Linked DNA regions of Homo sapiens. The protein of the gene in region 3 purifies or fractionates together with the protein of the main gene of each other region. This does not show direct contact. Each region holds a gene or a part of one and is shown on either strand. Other genes may lie near its edges. The genes, in order: WDR97, NUDT16, MTMR2, LUC7L3 and OTOL1.

Region 1 (3,517 bases), on a different chromosome or scaffold from region 3:
CCTGCTCCCATGTCACACCCAAGCCAGCCCCTACCTTCTCCCCTGTCCCTCACCCTAACCCATGCTTCTCATGCATCCCCAGTTCCCTCCAACCTGCAGGCTGAAGATGGGGAACAACTTTTTGAACCAGGTCTGGTAGATGAAGAAATGCAGAAACTTGGGCAGATGCCCGTAATGCTCATCCAAGAGCAAACTCCCATGACGGTGCCAGGGATGAGGGTGGGTCCTGGCAACCTTGCAGCTGCGCCGCCGGGGCTCCTGGGTCCAGTCCACAGCACTCTAGGGGAGCAGCAGTGGCTGCAGGTCCCACCTGTCTGGGTCTCAGTGTAAGCCCACCTCCCGTGGTGGCCTGGGGCCTCTGCCTGAGCCTCTACCTGATCCTCCAGTTCCCAGGAATCCAGCTGCTGGTTGGAGTGCGGGCTCAGGGAAGCCAAGGCCCAGTCCAGCTCCTCGTCTTCCTTCTCCTCCTCCTCTTCCTTCTTGTCTTCCTCCCCCTCCTCCCCAGGCTTCTCCCCCATCCATTGGAGCAGCTTCCTCTGCCACTGGGTTTGGGATGGCCTGGGGCGCCACAACCACAGGGCATCCTGGCTTGCCCCTGGCTGCAGAGGGGCAAGAGATGGTGCCTGATGGGTTGCAAGGACAGCAGAGCCCTCCCCTGCCGGCAAAACCCCCAGCCCTGCCCCTTGCCTCGAGCTTTCTCTGGGAGGCGAGCTGAGTCGGGGATCCGAGGCTGCTGACCTCCGCATTTAGCCACATCTGCTGTAGCACCGCGGAGTTGGGCACATAGCCGGGGAAGCAGATGGGCCTCAGGCAGTGCTGGAGGTGGGCACAGCAGGGAATGCTGAGGACCTGGATTCCCCAGCCTGGACACCACCCTTGGTCACCTGTATAACCTCTCAGAGCCCCTCAGCCGCCAGTCCAGCTCTGCCTGCCAGGCCTCCGAGAGCTGGCTGAGCTAGCAACCCCTACTCTCAACACAGATGGCAGGAGAACCCTGAGATACCAGGGGCGAGGCCCTCAGTGAGCATCAGCTCTGACAAACGAGAAGGGAAACCTGGAGAAGTGCTGGCTTCTAGGGGCCCTGACACCCTGCAAGCTCCTTACAGGACTTGGCCCCAGCCCTGGGACAAGAAAGTCTAAAAGAAGCACAGGGGCCAGGGAGGAAGGAAGGAGCTTGGAGAAAGGGCAATGAAGAGCATGATGGTGGCACCCAGGCCCAAAGAGTCAATTACCCACCTGGGCAGGTGACAGTGCCAGGAATATGCTGGGGGAGGGGCTGAGGCCTGCCTGGGCACCTGGTGTACGTGAGGGTGGGAAGACAGTGGATTCTAAAGGGCCAGGTTCCCTTGACTTTGCTCCTCTAAAGGGCAGGGATTCTGATCTTCCAGGAAAAGTCCCTAGGGGACCTGCCCTCCCAGCGCCTCCACGGGGGAAAGGGGTGTGTGGCATAACCGGCTGGGGGGACTGGCTTTGCCTGATGTCAGCTCCCAGAGCAGCAAGGAGCCTGTGGCCACAAACACAGCTGTACTGGAACAGGGCTAGACAGAGGGTGAAGGGTGAGGGGTGAGGGGTGCGTGGGAGGCTACAGCCTGGCCCTCTGGTTGTAGGTGGGCATGGCCCTTGGGTCAGATTTGGACACAAAGATTTGTAGCAAAGGGGAGATGGCAGGCACAAGAGTGATGCCTGGAGAGGAGTGGCTCTCCAGGAGCTGGGAGGGGGTCTCACCTTGTGGGGCTGCACGGTGGCAGGAAAGAAGCCCCTGAGGCTAGAGAGAGGTTCCTTGTCCCATCTCTTTGGCAGCAGTGGGATCTGGGGGATGGAATGGGGGCTCAGAACAACACAGCCCCTAGCACCCCGGCAGCTCTGCCCCTCAGTAGGTGGTACCCCACCTGCCTGGGTCCCTCACCCTGCACTGCAAGTGGGAGGATGGCAGGTCCAGGGCCATGGTCGTCCTCCCTCGGAGCTGCTCCAACTGCAGCTGCAGATCCAGACTGATGCCCAGGTAGTGGCTCAGTGAGGAGCGGGCCAGAAGCTGGGGCATAGGAGGAGTCACAGGGTGGCAGAGGGGTCATGGGGGCCCAGCAGGCATGTGGGAGGGTGGGAAGCCTCACCTGGGATGCCTTGCTGTGCACCCTACGGTGGGTGGGTGGGATCGGCACTGTGACTCGGGGAGACTGGGAGAAGTGCTGGCCCAGGGCTCCCAGGTCCTGTGGGGACAGGGCTGTTGGCACTGTTTGGGCTGCAGTGCTGACCTCAGCCCGGGCAAGACAGTGGGCAGCTTGGGGTACAGCACACACATCCCGGGTCTCTCTCTCCACTCTGAGGGTCCCGGCACTCCACTGCTGGGACCCCCTTCCAGACTGCATGCCCTGGGAGGTAGCAGGAGCAGACAGACCATCAGAGACCAGGTGGGAGGGGTGGGTGGAGAAGAGGGGCCAGGGTCAGGGCTGGGCTGGGGGAGGCCCTACACCTACCAGCAGGCCAGAGCCGTAGATCAGACGGAGGTAATTGTCAAAGCCTTCCTGGCGCTGCTGCCAGGAGGGTGGGGGCTGGGCTGCTGGGACCACTAGCCCCAGCCTCAACTGCTGAAGGTCTCGGTCCCGGGCCACTATGGCGTCCAAGTCCTGAGTCAGGGTTCAGGGATCAGCCTGCTCTTCCTTGAGCCTTGCTATGTGCTGCCCGGGCAACCATGGGGATCCCAGGCCTGCCCCAGGGCTGACGGCTGGGGCCTGAGCCGGGGCAGGGCGGGCTAAGGAGGACCCACCCCACCTCCTTCGGCACCAGGTGCTGAGATGTTGCCCTCCGACGATGGATGAGAGACAAGGCCTCGCTGCAAACAGGGACAGGCACAGGTGGGATGCTGGGTGGCATGCCAGTGGGCTGGGGCAGAGGCTGGGACAAGGACCAACCCCAAACGGGTGTGCCAGGGCTCAGGCAGGCTTGTATCAACTCCAGAGGGCCCCACACCGCCAGGCCCCCACCCAGAGTGGGAAAGGAGGGCCTCCAGGAGGGCTGAGCAGGCCTGCATGGGACCTGAGGCTGGCTGCCCCATGGAGGTTGGTGAGCCTCTGCAGTTGGGCGGAAGTCAGTGACTCCTGGCTCATCAGTGGCAGCGGAGGGTCGTCCACCACGTCTGGGGCCTTCCGGCACATCTTCTGAATAGGGGAAGGAGCCTGTATCCCTGGCTGGGGGAACCTGGGTCTGCCCCCCAAGGTGAGCAAGGGGGGCCCACCTTGCTCACTCTGTCCTCACCACACACCTTAACTAGGTAGGATGTAGGCAGGTAGAGCCTGTGGGACACCAGGCAGAGGCGGGATCCCAGCGCCAGCACCAGGTCTCCACTGTTGCTGCAGAAAGCCAGGGCCTGAGGGGCACCATTCAGCTGCAGGAGCCTGGAGAGGCACCCAGGGCAGCCGAGGCTCAGCAGGGACAAGGCCTTCTCCACTCAGTCCAGCCAGTGGGCTCTGGTGAGGAGCAGAGGTAGGAGACCCCAGCCCTCCCCACCTCCTAGCCTACC
Region 2 (4,006 bases), on a different chromosome or scaffold from region 3:
AAAAGAGCTTAGAATAGTGCCTGCCACACAGTAGGCATCCCTAAAATGTTAATTGTCATCAGCATCTTCCTTTTTATTCTTTTTCAATACTACATAGGCATACTTACACCTGACATTTTAACTGTCAAACATTGACTGAAAGTATCTTAGCACTCTCTTAATTAATACTATTTTCTTAATTTCTAATAGACTTTGCTGTATATAATCTGAAATTGTTGGTGATTATGTGATTATTGTGGATAATCTCTTGATCAATTAAAGAATTCTAGTGCCTTTGATATTAATATTATGATGATCTCTTACTTTTTTACTGTAATTCCCTGGCATTCTTTCTCATCTTTTCATATTCAGCCAGAATCATATTGTTTTGGTATGTACTTTGAAATAGTAAAATTTCACGAGTCTTACCGTTTTCAGAAATCAAATCCTGCTAATTTCCTCAGCAGAATCACATTTTTATGCTTCTTTCTCCCTCCTCACTACTCACTTTTACTAAAATAAGTGAGAACCTGGGAACTAGCATAAAATCAAATGATTTATTGTTATTTATAAAATATTTATTATGCTCAATATACATATTTCCTTTCAGATGTTAACATATTGTTTGATAGCCATCATTAACACAGTACTTAGCACTAAAATTGTACATAATAGGAGCCACTGCCTCACAGCCAGCCCACAAATTTCCTACAGTTTTCCTGTCGATCAGTTATTTCCTTTGATTCATTCTGTACATTCCTGAAAAACATCTGTATGGTTTTCCAGTAAAACTGCATGAGTAATATCCATGCTTTTGCACTTAAACGTCAATTTAGATAGACATGCAATTTGTGCTGTAGTAAGTGACCTAATTCTCCTACCTTACAAATTTCCTTCACACAAAAAACAGTCTGATGCTTTTTAGTTTTTATCTTTTTGTTCCCCTGAACATAGTGAGTACTGCCCACTTCTGGTGTAGTATCTTGAGTTTAGGGAAGTTTTTGTCCTGTTTCCTCTAAAATGTTGTTCCTGTTACATGTGTTCTGTTAGTATTTTCCTTCTATCACTTAACAAGACTCTGGATTCTCATTGTCTGATCTCTGTATCTATGATATTCTCTTTGGCCATTTTCCTTGTTTTGCACTTTTTCTCTGGGTTCTAGGGGATTTTCTTAAGCCTGGTCTCCATATCAGAGGTAGATTTTCCTGGGGCTGATGATGCTCTTGCTGTTCCTAGGGTAATGTTAAGTTCTCTAACAGAGAGATCCCTCTCCTTAAATTCTTTCTTGGTGTTGCCAGCTGTTCCTGCATGTCTTATCTTTTCTCTCACCTCATTTCAGAGTCCCTGCTCTCCTTAAATGCCCTGAGTAAATACCACTTCTACTCCTTGGAATGAATCTTCCAGAGCATGGTCTTTATCACGTGCATCTGGTGCTCACATCCTCTTCTATTTAACAGACCTATGTTACTTGCTGTTTACTTAAATCAATTAGGGGCAATTCTGCTCTTTTGGTTTCAAACAATTGGGGTCATTCACCTGTTCTCCCTTCCTTGTTTACCTGGCCTTTCCCTACATCCACAACCTAGGACTAGTGCTGGATAATAGGATGTTGTAAACCCATCAGTTCTGTCTTCTAGAGACCTGAAGAAGGTGGGAGGACTGGGACTGTAGGTGAGGGTCTTGGCTGAGTCCAGGAGCTTTCTATACTTGTTGAAAACCCCATCGAGGGGTTGTTATCCTGAGTGGAAAGAGGGAATCCTCTGCCCCCGCATCACCTGGGAATGCCTGTGGTGGGTACATACCCATGGTGAGGGCACAGGCAGCAGCTCCAATCTGCATCTGTGCATCAGGATGAGCAGCACTTTGGTGAAAATGCTAGACACACAAACTCCCTCCATCTGGGAGCTGTTGGTGAGGAGCTTCCTTTTCTTGTTTTATGTCCTTCCCAAAGTCCCTTTGCTATTCTTGCTTTTCGAGTGTAAGAAGGGTTCCTTTGCAAGATTTCATCTCTGCCCAGCTGGCCCCTGTAGACTACCTCTACCCCTAAAGGGAACATAGCCCCTGTAGAGTACCTCTACCCCTAAAGGGAGCCTCATTTGCCCAAGCCAGAAGGGAAGTGGGGAGAAGGCACATGGTTTCTCTTTGTGGGGGCCCTAAGTCCATGGGGGTTTCCCATTTTTCCTTTTTCCTCTGCCCTGCCCATACTCCTCTTCCTCAGAATTGAACATGTTGTAAATAAAATCCCCTACCTGGCTCTTCTATACTTCTCTGATAAGTGCCAAGGTCCAGCATCTTTTACTTTGGTTCAAATTCTGATGCCATCTAATGATTTGTTTACAGACTAAACTTTTTCCTCTAGTTTTGACTCTCTGACACCCGTTTGTGATTCTATTGGAGATAAAGGTTTCAAAAACATTTCTGTGCAACAAACTGAAACTCATATAGGAAACATGCCTTCCCTCTTCTCTTCCCCTCCCCTTGTCTGTTTCACTGGCCGGCTCCCAGCTCTAAGGGTTCCGGTAACTAGGAAAGGAGGAAGTCACTGTTGCCTCAAATGTTCCAGCCCACAGCAGCAGCTTTGCCATATGCCAAGTGACCACAGAGGACTTTGTCTCAGGACAGGGTGGGGCTCAAAGTGTTTTTATTCTGCACCAGCAGAAAAGTGCAATGCTGAGAAGTGGGAACATCTTGCTGATTATGCTGAGAAAGGCAGAAACACGTGTTTGTGGAGAGGCGGCTGGGCCACTCACCTTGCAAGAAACAAAATGTGCTGTGAAGCAGGAAAGTACATAGCATCCTGTACTTTCATACCGCTCAATGCATCTCTGCAAGCTTATCCCAAGTGCTGCCTCATCTGATCTCACCACAGGAATCACAGCAACATTTCAGATAAGGAAAAGGAGGTCAAGGGCTTGGGTCAAAGTCACCACAGCAGTTAGTGGGGGTCAAAGATTGCAATGAGCATTTCTCTTCTTCCTGCCCCAGATGATTGGACTTAACAAGGCCAAGGAAAGCTTAAGTGGGTCATCATCCCTGGCTTTCCTTAAACATCAGCAGGGTGGGAATGGCTAACAGGAGGAGAAACACAGAGTGTGAACTTGTATCACCCCCCACCTGCCTACCCAGAGACTGTCTATGTGAGTGAGATGAACACAAACCCCAGTACAGTGAAACACTTTTATGAAGGCTGCCTGAGAGGTAATCTACTGACTTGGAGAGTATGTTCAAGGGATCATATAGGAAAGTCATGGGCTCTTCCCCACGCAACCATCTCCAGAGACCTAAATAAAAAGCAAATTTAATACGAATAAGTGGACAGATGAGCTGCCCAGTAGGCAGGCACTGAGAGACTGATCAGTGGGATACTCAAGCAGAGTGAGACAGAGCGGAACCTTCCAAGTGGTATTAGTGTTGACCTGGATTACATCCCATAATGAGTTCTGGATCCAGAATTACCTGAGGGAAGGGGTCTGTTAGCAGTGCCATAAAGGGTCAGTGGCTCTGATCTCCCAGGCGTCAGGGTCCCTTGCAGAGATGACTGAGAACCAAGTGCACAAAGCACAGATGAAGCTGCTACAGGCTGGAACCCCAGGGGCCACTGGAATGTCCATTTCCTGCAGCCTGCCTATACTGAGGTTTAATCTAGATAACGTTTGACAAAAGGGTCAGGGTAAGATTAGGAGATGATAATTAACCTCTAGGAGTCTACCTCATTGTACAGCTGCTCCCCCACTGGGTACTCCCATTCTTCTAAGACCAAGGGCTGCCAGTGGGACCCACACTGCTCTGCATCAAGCTTCCAGACCACTGCCCACCCTCCCTTCCTCAAAAGGCTCTCACCTGGGAGATGCTATCCTGTCATGCCTGCTTTCCCCTCTGGCAGGTGCCACTGGCCTTGTGGCCACTCCTCTTGTTCACCAAGGATGCTGACTCCTAGGTCACACCATTCTCCTCAACATCTGTCGGTTTCTTGCTTCAGCACCCATGTGGAGGCTCACCCTGCCCTCCAGCCTCGCCAACCCTAGAT
Region 3 (3,517 bases):
TAGCAACTTCGAACACCCCAAAATGTTTGATTTTGAACACATTTATATAAACATGTGCAGCTTTGGCTGACTAAAACTTGATTCTTTGAAGTACGAGTTTGTTTTAAATGGCCGTTTCATGATAAGTACATTGTGTAGAGAACGGCAAAATGTGAGCCATCTGAATAAACACTCCAGGTACCCAATTTTATTTAACAGTTCAAGTTCAAAAGAGCAGACTAACTTTAAATGTCTGTTCCTTTCATGTTACAGTTAACCCTTGAACAACACGGTTAGAACTGCACAGGTCCACTTATATGCAGATTTGTTTCAGCCAAATGCAGGATGCGGAACCCACATACACAGAGGGCCAACTTTACATGGTCCCAGCAGGGCCAGCTTCAGAACTTGAATATGTGTGGATTTTGGCCTGTTCATGGGATCTGGGAACCAAGCCCCCACATATACCAAGGGACAACTGTATAAACACTGCTAGTATACTCTGGTAACTACTGGATACTAAAGGTAAACATTACAGACAGCATCTGGGTAAAGACCCTTCTAAAAGTTTTTCAATTATTTAGGAAAACGCCTGCCCAGAAACACCCGTGGACATCACTGAATGATATCCGATGTTTCCCAGTGGAGATCACAGAAAAGACTGGGTCAGACACTTGACAAATAGCTAGCTCTGACTCCAGACTAGTCATGTTAGGGATATCTTAATGCTTTCCAAAACAAGCAAAAACGTTTACCCCACTAGATAAATGATCAATTTCAGATGAATATCTTATTTTAAAAAACACATTTTTTTCACATGCCTTGGCATGAATGCATGTGATATATCCAAAGTCAAGGTTCCTTACTTACTAGTTGAAATCGATGTCCAAAACTTAGCCATTCTTTCTCCACAAGGACTTCAAATCCTCGGATGGTTCGATAGTATCCATCCAACATGAGCATGGCAAGGGAAGTGAGCTGAGCTGTGCGATCCCAACCATCACTGCAATGCACTACCACAGACGTCTTCCCTGACTCTACCTTGTCAGCAATCCTAAGAGCCCCTGCAAGAATAAGCTGGAAAACAGATTTTTTAATACATTGTTTTTAAACAAGGTAAATACTTCCTTCTTCAAAATTTACTAATACAGCTTATCAGGGATCATTATTTCAATAACATGAGGAAAAACATTTGTCCCTTCCTAAGAAGAATTTTTTTAAATGGTAGAAGATATATAAATTTTGCTTTTAAAACTAGAAAAACCTCATAATTGCTGACTCCTATTAATTTGCCCAACGAAATAGCCAAATCAAAAGTACCTTTGGGTGCTACATAAATCATGGTGTAAGATTCTTCTTAGAAAAGTTCTAAAGAGATCTGTTTCTAAGAATCAAATATTCCATCATCTATTTAAATAAAAATAATTGATATAGCAATTGAAGCCTTGTTATGATTTAAAACAATGCTTAAACCAAATTGGGATAAGCACCTGAAAGCAATAATACTGGATCTCTTTAAAATACTCTATAGCAGTTATTGTATTGTTTTGACTAAAGATTTTTATGTCACAGAGCATACAGCAAGCACAGTATAAACTTTAGAGTGAGCTACTTTTCTGTAACACTGCATGAAAATTCACAGAATATGTCAATCTGTTACTTAAAATAACTTCAGCTCTTATTTTTTTAAATATGCAGAAATCCTTTGCAAAATAACTTACCTTTTCTGAAGTCAATCTTGAGTTAAAACTAAACATAATTAGATATAACCAAAAAAGAAACACAAAAGTATGGTATCTTAAAAAAAAAAAAAAAAAAAAAGGACAATACAGCCCTATTCTTCTCTGCAATGGCCATATTGTATTATACTTGAAAAACAGTATAGTTCTACATACGCAGATGAGAATGAAAGAAAACAGATTATTAAGCTTGGAAGTATGATAACCTCCCCTTGATCACAGCTATAAGCATATTCTGGAAATGGGGTACTATGACGATCTTGACTATATATCAAGAGTCATTTGTAAGCCTGAAGTGCCTAGACCTCATTGTCCAATGATCCTAATTCAGTATCTTAAATAAATTCCACCTATAATTCTAGTGCATATACGAAGTTAAGAATCACTAACCCAAAGGCTTAGTTAAGATTGATCAGGAAGAGTTATCCAAAGTAGTAATTGTTCATTCATTCATTAAATAAACATTTATGGAGTCCCTTACTAGAAGGTAGATACTGCTCTAGGCACGGGCCATACAGCAGGGAACAAAGTTCCTGCTTACTGAAGTTTACATTCTATTTGGGTGAGGCCCACCAGTCACAAATAAACAAGGAAATATACAGTATACCAGATGGCAATAAGTGAAAACGCTCCATAGAAGTTATAGGGAATGCTGGTAGAACTCTTATTTTGTAAAGAGGCTGGGAAAGGTCTCTCTCAGAAAGGTGATATTTGAGCAGAGACCAGAAGAGAGTGATTGAGTAAATAAACTTTCTTTGTGTGATAAGGATTGGGGGAGAATAAAGTAGTTTAGCCCAACTATATGTCTTATAACTCTAGGGAAATTTGATTCTGTTATAGCCAGCCTTTTAGAGACCATGTTGAAACTGCAAATTAAATATCTGGAGTTTTCAGAATCAAACACAGCGATTTATGTTAGTTCCAAATCAAGCCTAAGGCTGTATATTTACACATCACATAATTTAATGAATGGGCCACATGAACATGCTCTCTGAGTAGTGTTTATACTTTGTGATTTTCAAGCTTCTAAGCTTCTCAAAGGGAAACAATAGTAAAAATGGTCTATTTAAAATTCTTATTCAGTTTGGTTTTCTCTTCAATTCTGTCTGAACTTCAGAGATTTTAATGTGAGCAGAAGTATCCTCCTTCTTAACGTGAAAGACTGCATTTCCCATTACCTCTTAATATTTATATATGTGGTTACATAAGTCTACATTTTGGTGAGTTATGTTACTGACAGACCATATCTGAAAATATAACTAGATTAAATTAGCATGTTAGGTAAATTAGCACTGACATGTGCTCTGCGAATGACTTAGCACTCAGTGTGGCTCATGCAACCACTCCACCTCATTTCCCTGATCAGAATGGTTTTAACTTCACAAATCAACTAATATTTATTGGGTACCTATTCACACGGATAGTGCTGCCCTAGCTCCTGAGAGGACAAAAAAATATATGTAGGATTTATCCAGTCTTGGTCTCCATAAATTAGCAATATACGTTGGTTGACACACAAAAGCAAACAAAGTACACGCTAGTTCCTGATTAGATGGAAAGACAGGGTAAAGAGTTCAGAGAAAATGGAAAAGGATGCAATCTGGGAAGACCTTATGGAAGAAATGAAATATGAACTGGAATCTGAAGGATGGTTCGAATTCAGATAGGATGGGAGGGGGAACAAAAGAAATACAACATAACCAAATGCACAATATAAAAAACCAATTCATTCAAACATTAAAATTCACTAGTAGTTCCAAGTATCAAAGCATTTACCCATTTTTCATTGTTTAGAAAGG
Region 4 (3,076 bases), on a different chromosome or scaffold from region 3:
AACACAAAGATAGCTCCCAGGCACTGCTTTGTGTAGTTTGACAGCATTGTGGTTGTAGCAGCAAAGGACTTAAAGTGATAGTTTTTAAACCATATTCTGTCCCTAAGTAATAAAAAATCTAGGAAGTTACTAAAATACCAGATTTGTTCTGCTCTGCCTCATCTAGAATCAACGTCTAACTAACTTAAATGAAGTATAATAAATGAGTTCATATGAAAAGGCTTCCTCTATGGACACTTAGATATATTGTAACTATTGAAGTTACCTGGGATGTGGGGGTGGTGGGAGGAGGACCTGCCTCCCCAGGACATCTATGACTAAGGCCTGGCTTTAGTTATGGAGAGAGACGTAGAAGTTGAATTTTACACCCAAAATTGATGTGACTGAAGAGGAACTGATTGTTGCTAACCAGCTCACAAGAATCCAGTATTGAGACCAGTTCACTAGAAGAAACAAACATTTCTGCCATGCAGACCAAAAAGTTATTAGTTGGTGAATATGTATTTTCTCTTTGGAAGGTCTTTAAGGGGAGCAAACCAGTTTTAATCAATCAGATTGCTTGGTAAGTTTGGAATCTGCAATCAGTTGGTCTTAAAAAAAAAAAAACTTTATTTTGGAAATTTAAAGACATACACAAAAGAGGAACAATATAATTAACCTCTGTTAACTCATCACCAACAAGACTCATGACCACTTTTATACTTCATGAGTGATTGTATTTGTATCCACTGTTTTCTATTATTTTCGAGCAAGTCTCAGACACACCATTTAATCTGTAAATAATTCAGCATGTATCTCTAAAAGACAAAGACCTCTTAAATAACAGTTCATTAGTATAAAACAAATTGGGTAAACTTTTGTTGGTCATCAAACTATATTAGCACTGGTCCAATAGTTTAATTTTCATTGAGCCTTTCAAGAGGACCGACCAGTCTGCTGCTCAAGACATCCTCTCCTCTGGAATGTAGAGATAATACATATCATGCTCCTTTTTGTTAAAACGTTTTTTTTTCCCCTTCAAACACAGTCCATTCATTTTTCAGTTTGGGTTGAAACATCCTTTTCTTGATCTTGAGCTTATAATAACCTAGTCATATTGCTCAGCTCAGATATTTTTACTCCCTCTCCTTAGGCATTCTGGTTCCTTAAATATAGTTAGTGTCACAGAGGATAAATAACCAACCTTATTTCTAAGGTCTGAGAACACTTGGACCACATATTGGTTGAGCTCAGCCACCTTCTGATTAAAGTTTTCAGACTTGTAAGAACTGAAAATTTTTATGGTGGAAGTTCTCTGAGCCCTCATCCATTCTGTTTTTAAAAATGCATTGCAGATGGGCTATGTGAATATGTTTTTAAACATCTGATATGTGCATGAAACAAAAAACACTTGAAGTTATTATGTATACAATTCTGTGGGATGGGACTTCATGCAGGATTGGTTTTCAAGTTTGATTTCCTGAGGGATTTTTTAGTTGTTTGTGAAAGAACCCCAGGTCTACTTTTGAAATTTTGTATTATAATTGTAATGTTGCCCATGGTTAAAAAAAAAAAGTGTTCAGTGATCTATGTCTCCTACTACTCCTATTTCTCTGTTTTTCCTCTGCAGGAGCTTGCTGCTGTTAACAGTTATTCTTCCAAGTTGTTTTCTTTGTGGGGAGATGGGAGGTGGGAGGAAATATAAACATATATGTATAGATCTTTCAAAATATATGACGGTATACCCGTATGTTCTGAGTCTTGCTGTTTTTACCTGGTAATATTTAGAAACATTTATTTTGAGATAAAGGAGAGCACTTTTAAGTTGAACCTGTAGTTTTAAAAAGTACATTTCAAGTAAGCCAAAGCAGAGAAGTAAATGTATTTTTCATTGTTGTATCAGAATTTTGAATTTACTATTTTAAAAATTCAAGAGTTTTGTAGCTGATCTATTTCTTCCCCTCAGCCATCCCAAATAGGTCATTTGTCAACAGATTTAAGAATGTTTAGAAACAACAACTTTGGGAAACGGGAAACAATTTGGTATAAGTGGGTGTGCCATAACCTCTCTCGTAGCCATTCATTCCCGGATACATACCCTAGAGAAACTCTTACACATGCGTACCAGGGGATGGATTTAAGCATTTGTGTGTAATAGGAAGAAAAGAAGAAAAAACCCGGGAAGATCCCAAGTGTCCACCAACAGTGTGTTGGATAAATACTGTGGTATATTCCAACAGTGGAATTCCACAGAAGTGAAACTGAACTGCAGCTGTGTATGTGAACATGGACAAAACTCAACAATAGAAGGATCAAAAAAAGCAAGTCACAGAAGAATACATCACTATGGTTCCATTTCAATGAAAGTCAAAAACAGGCTGTCAAATACATGATAAAAGGAAACGATTAAGACAAAATTTAATGTTAGCCGTTTTGATGGAGGGAGAGGTGATCATGAGGGCACAGGGGTCTTCAGAAGAACTGGTGAGGGTCTGTTTCTGAAGCCTGTGGGCATTTCCTTTTTTAATCTGTATGTTTATGTGCTTTTGTATGTATGATATTTCTTAATAAAATTTAAAAAGAAGAATGGGAAAAAAGTCTTGGTGTAGGTAGTTACTAATATATAAGCTGTAGTGTATTTCGTAAAATTAACCATCAGTCAGTGACAAATTTAAAGATGCTGTTTCTTGAGTGCCCAATTTAAGGTTTTATTTTGTTTGAGACAGGGTCTCTGTCTTGTCACCCAGGCTGGAGTGCAGTGGCACGAGCTCAGCTCACTGCATCTTTCGCCTCCTGGGTTCAAGCCATTCTCGTGCCTCAGCCTCCCAAGTAGCTGGGATTACAGCTTCGCACCACCACACCTGGCTCATTTTTTTGTATTTTTAGTAGAGTGTTTCACCATGTTGTCCAGGCTGGTCTCAAAACTCCTGACCTCAAATGATCAGGCCCACCCTGGCCTCCCAAAGTGCTGGGATTACAGGTATGAGCCACCGCGCCCAGTCTTCAAATTGAGGTCTTAATTGTAACTCTTAAAAAGCTAGAAACGGCGACAAGAGCAAGACTCCGTCTCAAAAAAAAAAAAAAAAAAAAAAAAAAA
Region 5 (4,101 bases), on a different chromosome or scaffold from region 3:
GAAGTAGGCTAACATGAGCATGTACAGGAAGGGTATCTCTATACCCTTCCCCAGAGACTATACTCTGTGGCTGCTTGTCACTAGGTCAGCTAGGTGACCAATGAGAGATGGAAAAGCTGTGTGACAATCTGTGTGCCTGCATGCATGTGTGCAGTGTTCCCAGGTAAGTTTAAAATTTCTCAATTGGCTGTTTATAAAGTTAACATATTTATATCAAATATAATGTGCTTTATCAAGTATTTACATTTTTAAAATTGACTCATCTGCAAGAATCTAGTCTTTAAGTAGCAAATTGCTCTCCTGAAAAATGATGCAGAATGTCCCTTGAGTTTTGACATGAATGAATTACCTACCTTTCTCTCCTTTGTAGCCTCTAGGGCCTTGGGGCCCAACAACTCCTGGTGGCCCTGGGATCCCCAAATTTCCAGCCTCTCCTTTAGGACCTAGAAATGGGATTTTAAATACATCAGAATATAAAATTTCTCTTTTAAAGTTCATTAGTTCAGGAAAGAAAAAAAGCATTTTACTGCAATCAATAAGTATCAATGACCTAATGGTAAAATCTGAGTAAGAATAAACCACACAGAGTCCTAAGGGCAATATTTTTGTCTGATTTGCAATTTCGTACTACCTGAATAGATAAATTGAGACCATTAGTACTTGTCACTGTATTCATGGCAGTGATCAAATGATTCAGGGAAGCAGCACTATATCAAACAAGAACAAAATGATAATCTGACACTTAACCTCATATGGACCACACTTTCACATTGGAAGTAAAAACAACACCTAGCACCTTTGGATTTCCCTTTTATTCACTTACTCATTCATTCATTAACTATTTCTGAGGCATCCTATACACCAAGCACCCTGCAAGGTGTTAGGAATGCAGCCATCAACATTCCAGCAGTCCCTACTCTCATGAAGCTGAGAGTCTATGAAAGATAAACATTTAACAAATAGCCACACAAATACGTAGAAATTGTCACATTGTAGTAAATGATATAAAGAAAAATACGAAGGTCTTATTGAGGACTTAACTGATGAGATCAGAGGCTTCCTTGAGAAAATGGTATTAAGCTAAGACCCAAAGAATAGATTAAGATTTCCCAAAGCAGAGTAGCTTCCCTAAGTAGGACCAAGATAGTCTCAGCATTCTAAGCTCTCAAGCACTATGCTCTGTGGCAGAACCAGTCAGACTAAGACATATGAGCTCCCCAGGCAGGGTAATAACTTGGCACACCTTGGAATTATTTGTCATATATATTTAGAGGAGAGAATGAACCCTGAGAACAGCACAGCTAAATCCACCACTGGGTAAAACAAAAGCCCTGATGTTACAGAACTCACAGCCTTAGCAAATAGTTTAGCAACCAGCTGTGTCTACTTGACCATGCCCTTGGGATTTTCACCGCCAAGCAGCTTACCAGCCAGATAGGATACTAAGACTTCTGGTAAATATAATTTTCTCAGTCTCATTAAATTTTCAGTAATGTTTTAGCAATCCTGACATCTTGGTACCCAAGCTACGGCCCATCTCCTTTACTCCTTAATGCAGCTCTGCATAAATACTAACCGCATTTCCCAAAAGGTCCCTACAAAGGGATGAAATGAATGAAAAGCTTGGTGAAGATGTATAATTGCTTAGTTTATAACATTAAATTCCTCAGGCAATGGTGAATTTTAAGTTGACATTCTGATCTTAACTTTACCTTGAATTCTCTTCTAGATGACATGTAAAAGCTGAAATGTATTAGAATAAAGCCAAGACTATATTCATTATGTATATATTATAGACATCTGAAATCTTGAAATACATAACCATGGTGTTCAATGGAGAAAATCATTGGGCAATGACACAGTATTGCCTCAGAAATTCAATGAGAAGCAAATGGAATCCTAAGCTTTATTCTCCACCTCAGAGCCATTCCATTTCTAATCCTAACTACAAATAGCACTCAGAAAATCCATCAGTCAGCACACATTCTTGCAAGGCAACAGAAGTTTCATTTACCCTTTTTAAATCAGCCACTAATTTAAAAAATTGTACTGGTAATAAACCTGTGCATCTTGAAGAACCAGAGCACCATGCTGGAGTTGGTAATTCCTGACTTTGCTCTCACCAGCACTGTCCAGTAGAATTGTCTACAATGATGGAAATGCTATCTGTGCTGCCCAATACAGTGGCTGTTGAGCACTTGAACTGTGGCTAATGTGACTGATGAACTGAATTTTTTACCTTATTCAATTTTAATTTTAATATTTATTAATTACCACATTGGGCAACACAGCACCCATTTACATTTGTAACAATGTGACACCTAGACCTGTTACTATTTGCATAACAACGTAGAAACTCCTGGGGCAATTTCACCCGACAACCTACCTCTCAACTCTACCAATGTACAAGTGAGAAACATGACTTCTTATATTTTCTAATACCTGGCTGTCCAGTCTCTCCAGGTTCTCCTTTCTGCCCGGGTACAGGTGAACAACAATCACAACAATTCAAAAAGAAATCAGCTGGGTCAAGAGTGAAGTTTTCAAAGGGAGAGAGAGTGGCAGTGCCAAAGACAGAATCCAAGGCCGAGGGTTTGGTAATTGGTTCTGCCATTTCAGCCATTTCTGTGAAGAGGGTTTCTTCTTCTTCTGGAGGTGGGCCACTGGATGGCTTTAGACCCTTTGGCATCTCTCTTTCCTCAGATTTCTTCGTAAATTTGGTATGTGGTGTGGTCTTTGCTATTGTGTTCATACCAGCAATAGCCAAAATAATTAAAATAGCACAAAGCCAAGAAAACATCCACATATTTGAAGCTGGAAGAAAGATATAATAGGAAAATATATACATATTATGTGAGGTCCAAATGAAAAGACTAAGTCATATAAACATATACTCATATAAAAGAAATATATATGTATATGAATCATAAGAATGAATGATATGCATAATATAGAATGATATATTTTCAATATATTTTACATGTAAATGTGTACTTGAATCACTACAGAATATTTTATGTACTTATTTATTATAAAGAACACTTTACTTCCATTCATCTTTCTGGTTATTTTCTTAGTATTATATATTGTTCCCAACTATTCAAACTATCTGGCCAAATAGCAAACATGATCTACAATAAATACAACATGACTCAATAGCTCATATACCCTGTGGAAGATAAATGTGTATAATTTCCTCACTGATTTCACTCAGATTTATAGAAATCAAATACATTTGTATTAGAGGGAGATGAAAAATATTGAACTGAGTAGTTTATTCCAGCAAACTCAATTATTTCAAGAAAAAATATGGTGAAATAGTCCTTAAATCTACTAAGGATAATGGTCCTGTTGTGAGAGCAATTTTTTAAAATCTATTTTAATAAGTGAAGAGAGAGACAATTAAAAATAATAAATTTGAATATATGCTACATTCTTAGATTCTTCACATGGCATTTAACTCTCCACCTCTTTGCTTTGTAATTTGGGGAGTTTTTCTAGAAATTCATGTTTATTCTTGTATTATTTTAATGGGGCAAAATGTGGTTATTCTAAAAAGAGCTTTGGCAATGTCCAAAGTGATATGATGTAAGGTTTCTAATGAGGTGAAATTTTGATAGTTCAGAGTATTCCATTCCAAATCAACTCCCAGTAGTCTAAGGGGTGCTAACAGATAGCCAGGGTTATAAATCCACATTTCCTGATAGGAGAAGGCAGCCATAATTAAGATAAATAGTAAGAGAGTAAATAGAATGGAAATAAAGAGATTAAAAAGGTCTACTGTTTATACAGTCCCTACTCTGAGTAGATGCCGTACATTAATCAATCCAATCAGGTCTCACAACAGCTCTCCATTCCCCCTTGAGAACTGGAACATGACGATGATGCTCTCTCTCACCACTCCTATTCAACATAGTACTGAAAGTGCTAGCCAGAGCAATCAGACAAGAGAAAGAAATAAATGGCATTCAAATAGGAAAAGAAGAAGTCAAACTCTCTCTCTTTGCAGAAAATATTATTCTATACCTAGAAAACCCTAAAGACTGCCAAAATTCTCCTGGGACTGATAAATAATTTCAGCAAAGTTTCAGGAAAGAAGGT

What was found.
Region 1: the proteins of MTMR2 (region 3) and WDR97 purify together in Homo sapiens (affinity purification with mass spectrometry, with the first as the bait; one large-scale study listed by BioGRID). This does not show direct contact.
Region 2: the proteins of MTMR2 (region 3) and NUDT16 purify together in Homo sapiens (affinity purification with mass spectrometry, with the first as the bait; one large-scale study listed by BioGRID). This does not show direct contact.
Region 4: the proteins of MTMR2 (region 3) and LUC7L3 purify together in Homo sapiens (affinity purification with mass spectrometry; one large-scale study listed by BioGRID and IntAct). This does not show direct contact.
Region 5: the proteins of MTMR2 (region 3) and OTOL1 purify together in Homo sapiens (affinity purification with mass spectrometry, with the first as the bait; one large-scale study listed by BioGRID). This does not show direct contact.

The regions. Positions count from the first base shown.
Region 1 is NC_000008.11:144,110,739-144,114,255, reverse strand, and holds part of WDR97 (WD repeat-containing protein 97), read right to left. Parts: coding exon 3,517-3,517; intron 3,393-3,516; coding exon 3,260-3,392; intron 3,156-3,259; coding exon 3,034-3,155; intron 2,831-3,033; coding exon 2,770-2,830; intron 2,625-2,769; coding exon 2,475-2,624; intron 2,370-2,474; coding exon 2,112-2,369; intron 2,033-2,111; coding exon 1,907-2,032; intron 1,810-1,906; coding exon 1,726-1,809; intron 817-1,725; coding exon 739-816; coding exon of another isoform or gene 688-738; intron 600-687; coding exon 375-599; intron 280-374; coding exon 94-279; intron 1-93.
Region 2 is NC_000003.12:131,385,342-131,389,347, reverse strand, and holds the end of NUDT16 (U8 snoRNA-decapping enzyme), read right to left. Parts: 3' UTR 518-4,006; downstream 1-517. UniProt on the Homo sapiens protein: RNA-binding and decapping enzyme that catalyzes the cleavage of the cap structure of snoRNAs and mRNAs in a metal-dependent manner. Part of the U8 snoRNP complex that is required for the accumulation of mature 5.8S and 28S rRNA.
Region 3 is NC_000011.10:95,844,104-95,847,620, forward strand, and holds part of MTMR2 (phosphatidylinositol-3,5-bisphosphate 3-phosphatase MTMR2), read right to left. Parts: intron 1,057-3,517; coding exon 850-1,056; intron 1-849. UniProt on the Homo sapiens protein: Lipid phosphatase that specifically dephosphorylates the D-3 position of phosphatidylinositol 3-phosphate and phosphatidylinositol 3,5-bisphosphate, generating phosphatidylinositol and phosphatidylinositol 5-phosphate.
Region 4 is NC_000017.11:50,753,644-50,756,719, forward strand, and holds the end of LUC7L3 (luc7-like protein 3), read left to right. Parts: 3' UTR 1-2,576; downstream 2,577-3,076. UniProt on the Homo sapiens protein: Binds cAMP regulatory element DNA sequence. May play a role in RNA splicing.
Region 5 is NC_000003.12:161,495,513-161,499,613, reverse strand, and holds the start of OTOL1 (otolin-1 precursor), read right to left. Parts: upstream 2,807-4,101; coding exon 2,443-2,806; intron 444-2,442; coding exon 354-443; intron 1-353. UniProt on the Homo sapiens protein: Collagen-like protein specifically expressed in the inner ear, which provides an organic scaffold for otoconia, a calcium carbonate structure in the saccule and utricle of the ear.